Homo sapiens: one gene and its partners. Changing the gene in region 3 together with the main gene of any one other region gives a genetic interaction. Each region holds a gene or a part of one and is shown on either strand. Other genes may lie near its edges.

What was found. A genetic interaction does not mean that the proteins touch.
Region 1: changes in TRA2B (region 3) and NUP43 together harm fitness more than expected from each alone (negative genetic interaction), as found in Homo sapiens cells (one large-scale study listed by BioGRID).
Region 2: changes in TRA2B (region 3) and MED9 together harm fitness less than expected from each alone (positive genetic interaction), as found in Homo sapiens cells (one large-scale study listed by BioGRID).
Region 4: changes in TRA2B (region 3) and GEMIN4 together harm fitness less than expected from each alone (positive genetic interaction), as found in Homo sapiens cells (one large-scale study listed by BioGRID).

Annotation. Positions count from the first base shown.
Region 1 is NC_000006.12:149,743,730-149,747,920, reverse strand, and holds the start of NUP43 (nucleoporin Nup43), read left to right. Parts: upstream 1-1,391; 5' UTR 1,392-1,425; coding exon 1,426-1,545; intron 1,546-1,858; coding exon 1,859-1,981; intron 1,982-4,191. UniProt on the Homo sapiens protein: Component of the Nup107-160 subcomplex of the nuclear pore complex (NPC). The Nup107-160 subcomplex is required for the assembly of a functional NPC.
Region 2 is NC_000017.11:17,480,000-17,483,499, forward strand, and holds part of MED9 (mediator of RNA polymerase II transcription subunit 9), read left to right. Parts: intron 1-3,500.
Region 3 is NC_000003.12:185,930,154-185,935,589, forward strand, and holds part of TRA2B (transformer-2 protein homolog beta), read right to left. Parts: intron 1,608-5,436; exon of another isoform or gene 1,424-1,607; intron 1-1,423. UniProt on the Homo sapiens protein: Sequence-specific RNA-binding protein which participates in the control of pre-mRNA splicing. Can either activate or suppress exon inclusion. Acts additively with RBMX to promote exon 7 inclusion of the survival motor neuron SMN2.
Region 4 is NC_000017.11:746,593-749,264, reverse strand, and holds part of GEMIN4 (gem-associated protein 4), read left to right. Parts: intron 1-1,232; coding exon 1,233-2,672. UniProt on the Homo sapiens protein: The SMN complex catalyzes the assembly of small nuclear ribonucleoproteins (snRNPs), the building blocks of the spliceosome, and thereby plays an important role in the splicing of cellular pre-mRNAs.

The DNA of each region.
Region 1 (4,191 bases), on a different chromosome or scaffold from region 3:
TTGGAGAAAAGAAAAAAGTCAAATCCTTGATAGGAAACTGGTAACTCTAAAGCTGACCCAGATGGATTGCATTTACATGCAGTGCTTCCGTAAACTGTCCCTGTGAAGTAGGACTACCAATATCACATAAAAACAACAGTAGCATAATGGCCCTTTTTAAAGAAATAACCAACATACAGTTATGAATACCTATAGTGTAAAAGAGCTTCATTTTTTAGTTGAATAAGTCATATCTCTTGTATTCAGTAGGATTTACATTCTAATGGGGGAGGAATATGCATCTAAAGAAAACTAACATAAGATATATCCAAAATATATGTCATTAGTGGTCTAGATATCAAATGCTAGCTCACGCCTGTAATCCCAGCACTTTGGGAGGACAAGGCAGTTGGATCACCTGAGGTCAAGAGTTCGAGACCAGCCTGGCCAATATGGTGAAATCCCGTCTCTCCAAAAAAAAAAAAAAAAAATTAGCCAGGCATGGTGGCGCACACCTGTAGTCCCAGCTACCCTGGAAGCTGAGGTGGGAGAATCACTTGAACCTGGGAGGCGGAGGCAGAGGTTGCAGTGAGCTGAGATTGTACCACTGCACTCCAGCTTGGGCCACAGAGACCCTGTCTTAAAAAAGAAAAAAAATGGTGTTGATTTAGATCAACATTGGCTGGGGTCGTCAGGAAATGGTAAAGGAAAGAACAGATCCTTGAAGGATAGGCAGGATTCTGAGGAGTAAAGAGGAAGGGAAGAATATTATAGGTGTAACCAAAAGCACAGAAGGAACCTAGAAAACTGATTCCTGGGCCGTTGACAATAGGTATCACAAACTTCATTCTTAATCATGCACGTAATTGAATTGATCAAAGCTAGGCAATTGGCATCAAAACTAAAACTGGAGTCTTTCAGAATTCCAACTCCAGGCTCTGACAGTGTGTATTAACTTTGAAGCAAAGTATTTGTTTGGGAGACAAGAGGGAGAGGTTTGGGATAGTAGGTTGGCACTTTATTCGAGGTACTTCCACGAGTATTTAAGGATTTTTGAATCGTTTTCTATGCGCAGTGACCTGCAACTGCTTAGGTGTGGTTTCAAGGTGGTTTCTACTGCATTGTTTTTGTTCTGTTTTTGCACTTAAATTTTACACTGCACAATTATTGAACACAAGAAAATACTGACATTGCAGATTAGGAGCAAGTCCTACTGCTCAAAGGCCAAAGCGCTCTTGCCTTTGCTCAGAGCTGCTCTGTGAGATGGGTGGGCCTCTCAGTCTAGGTACTGACTGTGCCCACACTGGCTATCGACGAGAATTGACTCTCTGCAGCCACCGTCTCCGTCCTAAAGTCCCATCCAATCAGGGTTCCGCGGGAAGAGGCGGTGCTGAGAGGCGCGTACTGTGCTTGCTTTTTGCAGTACCTGCTGCGGCCGCTTTCGGCATGGAGGAAATTTATGCGAAGTTTGTGTCCCAGAAAATCAGCAAAACCCGCTGGCGACCGCTGCCTCCGGGAAGTTTACAGACCGCGGAGACGTTCGCTACAGGATCTTGGGACAATGAGGTATCGCCGCTGATAGGGACGAGCCCCTACCTCCTCCCTCTCTCCGGTTGAGCTGACCCCTGGCCTTCCGCGCGCCAACTCCCACCTTCTGGTTCTTCTCGCACTTTTAGGTCCCCCGGACCCCTGTCTCAGGCGCGGTTGCTCCGTAGCTCAGAGCCGGTGATGGCATGCCTGAGCCTCGTATCTCGTTGTGTTTTAAACTCACCATACCATTTGAGATGTTTTGGAGCAACATTTCCGGACGGGAGCACAACTTTTATTTTCCGAGAGTTGACGTTTATGTCATCTCAAGACAAAACTTTCTGTTTTACAGGAAAATTATATTTCACTGTGGTCTATTGGAGATTTTGGAAACTTGGACTCTGATGGAGGGTTTGAAGGAGACCATCAGTTATTGTGTGATATCAGACACCATGGTGATGTAATGGATTTACAGGTAAATCTGTGTAGCATCCAAAAGCTAACTTTGAAAGTCCTGAGTAATACATTTAAACAAGCAGAGCATCATAAAAGTTGTCTGGTGTCACCCCTCGTTTACAGAAAACTGAGTGCTCTGTAAGTTATGATTTGCCCAACATCATTTAGCCATTTAGTGGCAGAAAAAGGACTGGGAAAGGGGATGTAGATTTAATCATACTTTTTTATTAATTGACTGTCGACTATGTGCTAAATACCGTTTGGGGAGCTTTACAAAAATTAATTATTGTTGCATGCCAGTGAATCAAGTATCGTTACTTTGTTTTACTAATGAGAAAATTGAGACTAATATATCTTGAGCATGTACTATGTGACAGATACTGTGCAGGGGGATAACATCATTTTGTTTTTTGAATTCTCATAACAACTCCCTAAGTAGAGATTAGTGCTCCCGTTTTAAAGATTTACCACGATTTAGTGAACTTAACTTGGCCAAAGTCTCAAAACCAGTAATGAGTGGTGGGGATGAAATTGAGTTTTCTTTTTTTTTTTTTTTTCCAAGATGGAGTCTCGCTCTGTCACCCAGGCTGGAGTACAGTGGCATGATCTGAGCTCACTACAACCTCCGCTTCCCGGGTTCAAGCGATTCTCCTGCCTCAGCCTCCCGGGTAGCTGGGACTACAGGCGCAGGCCACCATACCCGGCTAATTTTTTGTATTTTTAATAGAGACGGGGTTTCACCATATTAGCCACGATGGTCTCTATTTCCTGACCTGGTGATTTGCCTGCCTCGGCCTCCCAAAGTGCTGGGATTACAGGAGTGAGCCATGGCGCCCGGCCGAAATTAAGTTTTCAAATCCTGGTGTGGAGAGCCCCTGCATTTTCCATAGAAAGCTACCTAGCCCTGGTGCGCGCTTGTAATCCCAGCTACTCTGGAGTCTGAGGCAGGAGAATCGCTTGAACCCGGGCGCAGAGGTTGCAGTGAGCCGAGAGTGCGCCAGCTTGGGCAACAAGAGCGAAACTCTGTCTCAAAAAATAATAATAATAAATAAATAAATAAATAAATAAATAAAATAAAAAAGAAAGCTATCTAGCTCTAGGAAAGATACATTTTTTTTTTTTGGAGACGAAGTCTTATACTGTCACCCGAGCTGGAGTGCAGTGGCGAGAGCTCAGCTTACTGCAACTTCTGCCTCCTGGGTTCAAGCAATTCTCCTGCCTCAGCCTCCCGAGTAGCTGGGACAACAGGCACATGCCACCATGCCTGGCTAATTTTTGTATTTTTAGTAGAGATGGAGTTTCACCATGTTGGCCAGGCTGGTCTTGAACTCGTGACCTCGTGGTCCACCCGGCTTGGCCTCCCAAAGTGCTGGGATTACAGGTGTGAGCCACCATGCCCAGACGATATTTTCCTTTCCTTTTTTTTTTTTCTTTTTTATGACGAGTCTTGCTCTGTCACCCAGGCTGGAGTGCAGTGGCTCGATCTCGGCTCACTGCAACCCCACCTCGTGGGTTCAAGTGATTCTTCTGCCTCAGCCTCCTGAGTAGCTGGGAGTACAGGCACATGCCAGCACGCCCAGCTAATTTTTGTATTTTTAGTAGAGATGAGGTTTCAACGTATTGGCCAGGCTGGTCTCGAACTCCTGACCTCGTGATCCGCTTGCCTCAGCCTCCCAAAGTGCTGGGATTACAGGCGTCAGCCACCGTGCCTGGCTTTTCTTTTTTAAAATTTTTATTCTTTTTTTGAAACTGAGTCTTGCTCTGTCAACTAGGCTGGAATGCAGGGGCTCAATCTTGGCTCACTGCAACCTCCACTTCCCTACAACCCCAACTCATTTTTGTATTTTTGTAGAGACGAGGCCTCGCCATCTTGCGCAGGCTGGTCTTGAACTCCTGAGCTCAAGTGATCCGTCCACCTAGGCCTCCCAAAATGCTGGGATTACAGGCGTGAGCCACTGCACCCAGCCAGGAATAATATTTTCCTAAGGTTTTATTGTGTTGGTCCCAAATTAAATCAATTGTGGGTGAATGTGTCTAGGAAAAAATATTGTTTATTCATGAAAATACTTTGTATGGCAGTTTGGCCTTTCAGCTTCATTAACACATTTTATTTCCTTAGCACTCATGGCTCTTTGCTTTTTAAAATTGTTATAAGATTTGCTACTAATTGAGTTAAATAAACAAATGGACTTCCTCCCTGCTAATATTTCTGAATCTTTAACAAGCAGA
Region 2 (3,500 bases), on a different chromosome or scaffold from region 3:
GGAAGTCTGTTTAAGAAGCAGGTCCCCACAGTCCTGTCCCACCTCCCATCCCCTCCAAGCGGCCGGGTGACTACCCTTCTTCCAACTTGGCAGATGGTTAAAAGGTTACTCTCCCGAGATTTATTCTTAGGAAGGAATAAGCCAGAGAGTACCTTGACTGTGGGACACCAGGCACACTGCAGGGGTAGGTAGGGGGAGCCATACTGAAAAGAGGGATTAAGAGAAAGTTCACAGTCTGAAGAGAGACACCACCCGAGCCTTCCCCCACCTGGCTTCTAGATTGGCAGCCAAAGAGAGTGGAAGTGCCCTCTCTATGGTGCGTGACCAATTAAGAGAAAAGACATTGGAAAAAAAAAAAGCCTAGTCAATTAATTCTGAGAAAATGAACAAGCATCACTCATTTGCAGAGCTTCCACTAAGCCTTTTAGTGTTTTATTCTTAAATATATGAGTGGATGGCCAAGGTCACTAAGCATAGGAAGAAACCCCCTGGTAAGAAAGACACGGGTCAGGCGCGGTGCCTCATGTCTGTCTGCAAGCCCAGCACCTGGGCAGGCTGAGATGGGAGGATAGCTTGAACCCAGGGAGCTGAGGCTACGGTGAGCCATGATCGCACTGCTACACTTCAGCCTGGGTGACATAGACTCTGTCTCAAAGAAGAAAGAAAGAAAGAGAGGAGACAGAGAGAGAGAGGAAAAAAGAGAAAGACAAGACAGAAGAGCAGAAAAAGCCACGTGGAGGAAACAGTAGCCACAAAGGAATGGAGTGGTTCTGCAGCTGTAAACATGAGAAGAGGCTAGGATCCAACCTGCAAACCTTCAGTATAGGCGTGTCTTTGAGTTTATAGGCAAATGAGGGAGGAATAAGGGCAGAGGAGGAAGGGAGAGGAGACCTCGTGAAGCCTGGGGGAGTCAGAAGGCTTGGTAAGAGTGATGCCAACAATGAGTCTTCAATTAGGAAAGGGAGGCAGGAGGAATGTTGGTATAGGAAAAACATGTAAGGACACGAAGCCAAGAAATAGCATCTACTCATGGGAGTCAGCTTCTAGCTTGGTGGTGTTGAGCATACATCCAAGGCAGGAAGAGGTGGCTGGGGAGGAGGGAAGAGCCAGGAAACAGAGTGCAGGTGTCTTCTGAGGGATGGGGAGCTAGTGAAACTGTCAGGCTGGAAGCCAGTCAAGACACAGTACTGGCGGGTGGAGATGAGGGCTGGGACCATGTCCGGTCCACCCAGGTGGCGCTCTCTGGCCCTGGGTCCCTTCCTTTCCTATAACTTCCCCAATGATCCTTTTATTCTTTGTTTACTTCTTGCACAGGGGTGAGTAAGGAGGTAAAATCTGAAGTAGTGAATTTAGCCTTTCTTGTTCTCATAAAGAATTCAGAGTTTTTGAAAAATTATTTAATAAAAGTAACAACTGCAAGTTTAGAAGTACAGAGAAACGTAAAATGGAAAATGTGTTCCTTCCCCCAAGTCCCCTCACCTGTAGTAACTGCTGTTAATACTTTCCTAAGTTCCTTCTGGGAATTACATATGAATGTCATTTCAAAAATTTATACAAATTGAGATCACGTCGTACTTGACTTTTTTCACTGATTAGTCTCTTTTGGCCACCTTTCCATACTGCACATAAAGATCTACCTCATTAAGGCAGCTGCAGAAAATTGCATCTTGTGGATGCAGCATAACTGATGGAACTGGTTTTCTGTTGATGGTCTTCTAGCTGTTTTTCTTATTCTTGCTATTACCAGCACAGTGCTGGGGTTAGCATCTTTGTGTAGGAGTAAGTTTATGATCAGATAAATCCCAGCAGTAGAATTGCTGGGGCATAGGGTACAAACATTTTTTATAGTGATAGTTATGCTAAATTTAGAGCACTACGTCTTTTTAGCTAACTCTTTTCCAAAATTCAGTCCTTGTAGACTAGACTGCTTCAGTTAACCTAAAATGGCCTATAAATCTGCCACCCAGAAAGCATTAAACAAAAATTAAAGTTGTAGACGGATTCTACAAGTACCCATGGATATGAAATGGAAACAGGGCCTCTCCCTTCACTCCTCCCAGCTCCCTTGCAAAGCTGTGTAATATTCCACTTTATGAACGTGCTGTCGTTTATGTAAACAGTTTCTTGCTCAAGGACACCGTCATTGTTTCTGCATTTTGCTGTTGGAATCAGCACTGCAGCAAGCATCTTTGCCCATGCTATCTTGGTGAACTCTTGGTAGTCTCTGTGGGGGTAAATTTCTAGCAATGGGATATGTGAATCTGTTTGGGTCACTATGAGCAAAGAATGCCCTGATCTATGCTTCCACCAACAGTTTTTGTGTCTTTCCCCATCACCTGCCATCACCATTAAACTTTTAACTTTGGCAAATCTCATAGGTCAGAAATGATATATTGATCTTTCATTAAGTTAGGTAAAGCATCCCTTCATAGGCGATTTTATATGTCACTTTTATTTTTCCCTATAAACTGTCCATTTCTCTGTTAGATTTTTTTATGTACAGAAAGGAAATAATGTGTGTCAAATGTACTGTAAATACTTCCTCCAGGTTGTTGCTTTTCTTTTGACTTTGTTCATAGTCATGGTTTTTCTATTTGTTTTTCATTCAGATGCATATAATTTCATGTAGTCAGATTTGTTAGGCCTTTCCCTTATGGCTTCTGAGTTTTGGTCCTACTTAGAAAGGCTTTCCCACTCTAAAATTATAGGTATTGATCTCTTTTTTCTAGAACTTTCATGGTTCCATTTTTTACTTGTAATTCTTTGAGGCTCCTGGAATTTATTTTGGTGGGAAGAATAAGGGGGCCTCGGTTAGCCACATCTTCCCACTGCTGTTTTTGAATATTTGTTATTTTCCCTGCTTGCAGTGCCACCTTTACCATGCACTGAATTCCCACATGTTTTCTGATCTACTTATGGACATTCTCTCCTTCTCCAGCACCAAACTATTTTAGTTCTTAAATCTTCATGGTACATTTAATTATCTTTTAAGGTTAATTTTTCACCCTTCCTCTTTCTTGTCAGTATTTCCCTGGCCCTTCCTTTCCCGTGGAGTTTTCTAGCAGCCTGCCTGATGCTAGATCATGATGCTTTTGTTAATGGAACATTTCGTCTTTAATCTGCTTCTTTACTTCCAAGCCTGTTGATACTACTCATTGGCCAGGTCGTTGAGCCTCGCTTTTGAGTATTATAATCAGCATTTAATTAGTCTCTTTGCCTTTATGCTTATTTTATCTTGTGAATGTTATTTGGCTAATTTTTCTTTGTTCTCCATTCTTCTCAAATTGAGCCCAAACTTAGGCCTTTACTCAGGGATCTCTGCAGACCATTTTCAGATTGTCTGCCTGAATAACCCAACACAAAGCCCACAGAGGGTCCTCTTGCTGCAGGTGCTGTTGGGTGGGCGGAGTCCTCCAGGCTGGCAGACCCTCCAGCCCCTCCACTAGAAGTGCCCACAGAAATGCTGCACAGAGCCCTGTGAACCAGAGCCTCTCCTGTAC
Region 3 (5,436 bases):
GCTTTCTTTCCTTTAGTGGGCTGGGGGTTAAGAGGTCTTTTCCTCTTTTGCACCCCAAGGACCTGTCAGGTTTCTTGATAAAAGAATCCATGGGCTTGGAATTAAAATGTAATATTCATTCACACATTTACCTCAGTTTCCTGCCTGCTCTTTGAGTAATTTGGAACATAAAATAACATTTATCATCATTAGTTTATCTATGGCAAGAAATTTGACAAAGGAATGCAAAACTTCTTAAGAGAAAATTTTCTTCTGCTTGCAAGATATAGAAATAAACAGGCCTGAAAGCATCAGAAAATGGATTCTCCAAGAAATGCCATTTAAGTCACTTTCTCCAAGAGCATGAAGACCTGACAACTCTCAGAGAAAGTTTATTTCAGGAAGACATGTGTGACATGATACCCTTGGCATTCTCAACTGGGTAGAAAACCGCTGGCTGACTACTACTGGGTATTATTTTTGATATGTGTACTTGTCTCATTCAACTGAAAGTAACATTACACCAATCACTTGACCCTTCTACTCAGCTAAAACAAAACACACAGAAAAGAAGGGACAGCTTTTGGGTTGAATTTCTCAATAAGTGCAAGGGATACCAGGTAACCAGAATAAAGCTACTTTGTAACCGTTACCTCTAACATTACAATAGCTAAATGTTGATAGCAAAAAAGGAGAAATAGGAATGAAAGCATCTGCCATTACTGCAATTTGTATTAGCTATCCTGTTCACTTGTGTGACCCACCTCTTCTAAGGGGAAGCTACGGTATTTTATCAGTAATCCTAGTCAATCAGCTGAAATAGGCATTAAACAGAAACAGAATTTGAAAAACCATCCCTGTGTATTTAGCAAATATGCATCTTAAATTTAGGGCCCAAATGCTCACAGATTTCCACTAGTGCCATATGGAAAAAACTAACACACTAATGCCAAAGGGAACTATTTTGTTCAATGCTTTGTTTGGATTTTGGGGGTTTGGTTCCATAACCATCCTGGTGACATTCCTTTGAAAATGGTTTAACAGAAAATATTCTACTATACATTGCTCAGTACTGAAGGAAAGGGGACAGTGCAATCTAAGAGTCCAGGGAGGTGGCAAAGACCACCAGTTCCAACCCTGGAGGTATTCGCTCATGCCCCAGGACCAGCAACATTAGACAGGTAAAGTTTATCTAGAGAGGACAACATGAAGCCCACTGTTACCCATGCTGGAGAGCTCACTGCTGCCTGGTGCTTGACTACTAAATATTTTTTAAAAATTGCATTTCAATCATTTAACTAAGCAGTTAAAATCAGAATTACCTAATTTAAACGTTTCCCCTGGAAGGCACTTCTTTACCCTGTATATATTTTCCTCTATTAAACAAATAATGCATGCATGTTTAGCAAAATATACAGGGACACATAAACAGACTAGTAATTACTTAGCGTAGTGCTTTCTGATTCCAGATTACTTCTTATCTTAACTTCATTTTTATTTCTTTTCTTCATTCTTCCGTTTCAAATTCTGACTTCTTTCATCTTCCCCACTTCACACAAATTGCTCAATATTCTACAAGTGGGACTTCTGGTCTGATAATTAGCATGCATTCTTTCTTTTATTTTTTCAAATTTCAGCTTCACTTATTCCTGAGCTTCAAATACTCATTTATAAAACTTGTCAAATGACGACTTCCGCATTTTCCTTCTTCAACATTAACCTTAATAGAAAAAGAACAGGATGAAGAATATTTTAAAACTCCAGGATAAAATCCAGTGCCAAAACTGAAACTAGAAAAAAAAAATCCCTTTGTTGATTTGGATTAAAAAAAAAAAAAAAGAAACTAGAATATGCAGCTCAAAAAACTGAAAACTACATAGTTTTCTGCTGGTTCTAGAATATATGGTAATCTCATTTCTCTACTCCAAATAGACTTATCATGCTTAAGTTGAATGTGAAGTGCGCCACTGAACATTTACTGTTCATTTAACATTTTAAGAACTATTAGTTACATTTCACACTTCTTATTATATTCAATAGAAAATAGGTTAAGTGTCAAAAGCACACCTCTAGTCAAAAAGTGACACATTAATACATAAGTGCATGAAAGGAAAGCACGGACAATTCATTTGTACAATGACAAACGCTCAGGGTTGAAGAGGTTTACAGTATTGTGACTTGTCTAGATAGGATAAAGAAACGTATTTAGCGTCACACATTTTTGTACTGTATTTAAAGAGCTCTGCAGAAAGACGGTGTCAGGGAACCTGACAATTTGGAGCTTAAGTGTAACCCACCCCCTGGAAAAGCTGCTCTAGTGAGATTTTATAGTATGAATCATAAAAAGACAAAATCAAGTCAACCACCTACAATATGCCAGTAGCTATGAAGGAAAGCAGAACAAACTTGAATCCAACACTGGTATTTTCAAAGAGTTTTGTTGTACATTTTCCCCCTCAATTTAGAAAATATTAAGTCTTCTGGATGTCCAAAGGAGAAATACTACTTTAAAAGGTGGCACTATTTAAATTACAGCTCACCTCCTCAAATAATTAAAAAGATTGAATTTAGTTGATCTGTAAATGTCTGTTGAACATACTAAACAAAATAAAATACTGCCTACATAAAACATGCTAGTTTTTCTTGTTATCCTACATTTCACTTTGATGATCTTTCATTTTATTGTCAATTACTTCCTCTCCTGGTTTTTCCTCCTGAAAAAAATGTAAGGCTTTGTTTAAAAAAATTGCAAGTCTTTATACCTATCTGGGCATAAAGACAACCATCGTTAATCTGGCAAGTGCTGTGATGTCTTTCCTAACAAAAGGATAATTTCCAGTCTAGTTTTAGAGTCAATTATTGTTTATTTAATCCGAAAATTTTTAAATATGTTTTTATTTAAGGGAGTTACAGTAATTGGCTTTCTTTAAATCTCCATCACTAAAATGCAATGGGAAATGTTTTCTGGCAGCACAAATGTAATCATGGAATCAGAATGCCCAAGCAGGTTTCCTTAGGGCCTCCTAAAACTTCGATACAGACAGGGCACTTAGATGCAGAAGATACAAGAATAGAGGCCATAGCTCTAGCTATCACAACTGTTTTCAATGTGGATACCTTCCTGCTGTTACTTCATTACCCCTTCCTAACCTGGTTCCTTCTCTTATAGTCTAAGAACAAAACCATTACTAAATTATTATAAATATTAGATTTAATTCAACTCAGCTAAGTTCAAGTGGCTACTTTATAAAACCAGAAGATCAACTCTTGGGCTAATGTTATGTACATTTAGTTAAGAGACCCTAGTTAGAAATAAACAGAAACTTGTCCTATCAACACAATTTTTGTTAAAATGTTTCTAGGGGATACAACTAGAATCCATTTAACATTAAACATGCACAAACTCATTAAGTTGACTGACAAGGCAATATTTTAAAAATTGGGAGGGACAGGGGCAAAGAAAACCTCATTAATCCTGTTATGGAAAGGTCAATGCTCATATCAATATAATAAGGACTATATTTTTTTCTGGCAGCCAAACTGTCTACCAGAAGAGTAAATGGATAAGTAAATCCTCAAAAACTGGAGAATAGTGTCTGGAAAAAAACATCATCTGAAATTAGTTGTAGGCCTGTGCTTATAAAAACTCTCTTGTAAATATAGCACAGACTGTTAAATTTACATTCATAAAACAGTCAGTACTCCCCAACAAAAGCAAATATAAATATCTTTTGACTTTTCAGAAGACTACCTTTTAACCTAATTTCTAACCACAAAAATTAGAGAAAAAGGGGCCCCTTATCCAAACTGTCAGGTAACAATCTATGTTGATAACATCAATCTCAATGTAACCTCCAAAACCCAATTCAAAGCAAAGATTTTGGGGGAATTTCAAGACTGTAATTTGCTACAGTGAAGAACTTCTTTTGGTTTGCAGTTTAAAAACAAGACTAAGTGATTTCAATATCTAATTCTACATAGCCCACACCCCCAATACTAACCTGGGTCAAAACACTTAAAATTCCTAAACATCAGTCACCATGCCTTGTTAAAAAAACAGTCGCATATGTAAAAACACTGATCAACATAAAATGCTAAGGCTCAAGAAATATACACAGCTGTAGCTCTGCCCTTGTCCTGGGCAAAATAGCTATGAAAGCATTAATATTTACCACCTACGTTCGGATTTTATTGTAGAGAAAGGAGGAAAAAACGCTATGTAAGGCAAATCCCATTAACACTTCCCCCACCACCTGAATTCCTTTTCAACCTTTTGGCAAAACCAGTAGTACTTACCTTATAAAATCACCTGTAATGTCAGCTTGAAAATGTCACGTTCTAGTTCCAGACAATATCCACAATATTAAAGCATTCTTGTTTAAAACCAAGAAAAAAATATTTCAACCGGGTTTCAAGAGACTGATAAACCTAACCAGACTCACAATACAAAACAATTTCCTCCTATTTGACAATTCAATCCTTTTTTAAAGGAAATTTGGTGAGATGGCTGCAATTCTTTAGAAAGAAGTAGATTCAGAGATGTTTCAGTTTTGAAAATTAGAATTTAGAGTTTAGGAGCTAAAACCAAGGAATATAAAAAGACATCCCAAGATTCAGCAGAAGATGAGAAAAACTGCAGAATTTGAAAAGCAGTTTGATGGGTTGGTGTCCAGATGCTGCTATTCATCTCTAATGATAAAGATTACGTGCCTATGTTGCAATCACATCGGCTTTACAAAAATAATAGCCAGTATTCTATCAGAGTATCTGCTGGGTCAAAACATTTTCTTTAACATCTGGTCCATACATCAGTGTCTCCTTAGTTTCTGGATTCCTTTAGTAAAGACTCACTCGTAGAAACTCATTACAATATTGAGAGGCTCAGAACATTACACTGCGTGCAAGACCAACATACAAATCTCACACAACCTATACGCTGTGACCATTATTGGGCTCTAAAGATTACCCTGCACTTCATCAACTTTTTATTCAACTTCTTGTAATTGTGACTTAAAGGCCAGGAGTGCCTCTTTTTACAAAGAAATGGTGCTAGTCAACCCCTTTACAAAATGCAAGCAATTTTGGGGGAAGAGTCTTGAATCCGGAGATGAAAACGAGATCTTACTTTTGAAAGTGGTTTGGCCAGATCAGGTTAAGCCTGCTAATTAGACCCCTATAGACAGATTTTAGTGTTAATCTATTACCTTTGAGAGGGGGGAAAAAATAAATCCCACAGACCAACGAGGGATGAGGGACACACCAGTTCTTTAAATGTCATTATATTCACCCAAATGTATTCTATTGAGTGATCAAACTGAGAATAATTTATCCCACACACCCAACCTTAAAGGGGAGGGACACAACAACAAACTCCTACAGTCACTGGAAAAGGTGGGGCACAGAGGGGTGGGGTTGTCTGGATTAGAGACAGATAAATAAGGGAGAATTCCACTGATT
Region 4 (2,672 bases), on a different chromosome or scaffold from region 3:
TGCCCATTACCCTGTGGCCGTGTGATTGCTCTGTGCCCATTATCCTGTGGCCGTGTGATTGCTCTGTGCCCATTACCCTGTGGCCGTGTGATTGCTCTGTGCCCATTACCCTGTGGCCGTGTGATTGCTCTGTGCCCATTATCCTGTGGCCGTGTGATTGCTCTGTGCCCATTATCCTGTGGCCGTGTGATTGCTCTGTGCCCATTATCCTGTGGCCGTGTGATTGCTCTGTGCCCATTACCCTGTGGCCGTGTGATTGCTGCTGTGCCCATTACCCTGTGGCCGTGTGATTGCTCTGTGCCCATTATCCTGTGGCCGTGTGATTGCTCTGTGCCCATTATCCTGTGGCTGTGTGATTGCTCTGTGCCCATTATCCTGTAGCCGTGTGATTGCTTCTGTGCCCATTACCCTGTGGCTGTGTGATTGCTGCTGTGCCCATTATCCTGTGGCTGTGTGATTGCTGCTGTGCCCATTACCCTGTGGCTGTGTGATTGCTCTGTGCCCATTACCCTGTGGCTGTGTGATTGCTCTGTGCCCATTATCCTGTGGCCGTGTGATTGCTGCTGTGCCTGTTACCCTGTGGCTGTGTGATTGCTCTGTGCCCATTACCCTGTGGCTATGCTCCCTTCATCTGTCATGAGAAGCTCAGCTGTCATGTCCTGTGGTACATGCTCAGTGGCCCCTGTAGTTTGTACTGTCCTCCTATTTCTAAACCCCTCTCCCCACATCCTCTGCTGGCCCAGCCTTTGCTGGAGGGTCTCGCCTCAGCAGCCCAGCTTTTTCTTTTCACACACTTTTCCTGAAGGATCTCATTCACCGTCTTGGTTCCGGTGATCCCCTCTGGGCAGATACCTCTCAGAATCACATTTCCCAGCTTACTTCCCTCCTGAACTTCCACCTGGCATTTCCGTTGCTGGAGGACATCTGTACCTTGATGGCCAAAGCTGAACTCATCTTTCCTCACACCTGCTCTGATTCTCCTCCATTCCCTGTATGTGATGTCACCTGGTGGCCTCCCAGTTCCCAGGCTGGAGAGCTCGGAAGCCATTCTGGATTCCTCGGCCAAGTCCTTCTGACTCCAGCTGTGCAGTGGCTCTTGTAGTCATCCCTTCTCCCCGTCCGCTGATGTCCTTTAAAACCCTTGTCATCTCAAACCATGACAGCCTACTAACAGCAGTGGCCATCTGGAAACATTTTCACTATACTGTCTTATTTGGCTTGTCTGTGTGCAGGACCCTTGAACATCTGTGAAGAAATGACTATTCTGCATGGAGGCTTCTTGCTGGCCGAGCAGCTGTTCCACCCTAAGGCACTGGCAGAATTAACAAAGTCTGACTGGGAACGTGTTGGACGGCCCATCGTGGAGGCCTTAAGGGAGATCTCCTCGGCTGCAGCACACTCCCAGCCCTTTGCCTGGAAGAAGAAAGCCCTGATCATCATCTGGGCCAAGGTTCTGCAGCCGCACCCCGTGACCCCGTCCGACACAGAGACACGGTGGCAGGAAGACCTGTTCTTCTCGGTGGGCAACATGATCCCCACCATCAACCACACCATCCTCTTCGAGCTGCTCAAATCCCTGGAAGCTTCTGGACTCTTTATCCAGCTCCTGATGGCCCTGCCCACCACCATCTGCCATGCAGAACTAGAGCGCTTTCTGGAACATGTGACCGTTGACACTTCTGCCGAAGACGTGGCCTTCTTCCTGGACGTCTGGTGGGAGGTGATGAAGCACAAGGGTCACCCGCAGGACCCCCTGCTCTCCCAGTTTAGTGCAATGGCCCATAAGTACCTGCCTGCCTTAGATGAGTTCCCCCATCCTCCAAAGAGGCTTAGGTCAGACCCAGACGCGTGCCCCACCATGCCCCTGTTGGCCATGCTGCTCCGCGGGCTGACACAGATCCAGAGTCGGATCCTGGGCCCGGGGAGGAAGTGCTGTGCGCTGGCCAACCTGGCTGACATGCTGACTGTGTTTGCGCTGACAGAGGACGACCCCCAGGAGGTGTCTGCAACCGTGTATCTGGACAAACTGGCCACGGTGATCTCTGTGTGGAACTCGGACACCCAGAATCCCTACCACCAGCAGGCGCTGGCAGAGAAGGTGAAGGAGGCAGAACGGGATGTCAGCCTGACCTCGCTGGCCAAACTCCCCAGTGAGACCATTTTCGTGGGCTGCGAGTTCCTGCACCACCTGCTGCGGGAGTGGGGGGAGGAGTTGCAGGCCGTGCTCCGCAGCAGCCAGGGGACAAGTTACGACAGCTACCGGCTGTGCGACAGTCTGACTTCCTTCAGCCAGAACGCGACGCTCTACCTGAACCGCACCAGCCTGTCCAAGGAGGACAGGCAGGTGGTCTCTGAGCTGGCGGAGTGTGTCAGGGACTTCCTGAGGAAAACGAGCACGGTGCTGAAGAACAGGGCCTTGGAGGATATCACAGCTTCCATTGCCATGGCCGTCATCCAGCAGAAGATGGACCGCCATATGGAAGTGTGCTACATTTTTGCCTCTGAGAAGAAGTGGGCCTTCTCGGACGAGTGGGTAGCCTGCCTGGGGAGTAACAGGGCCCTCTTCCGACAGCCAGACTTGGTGTTGAGGCTGCTGGAAACAGTGATAGACGTCAGCACAGCTGACAGAGCCATCCCTGAGTCTCAGATCCGGCAGGTGATCCACCTGATCC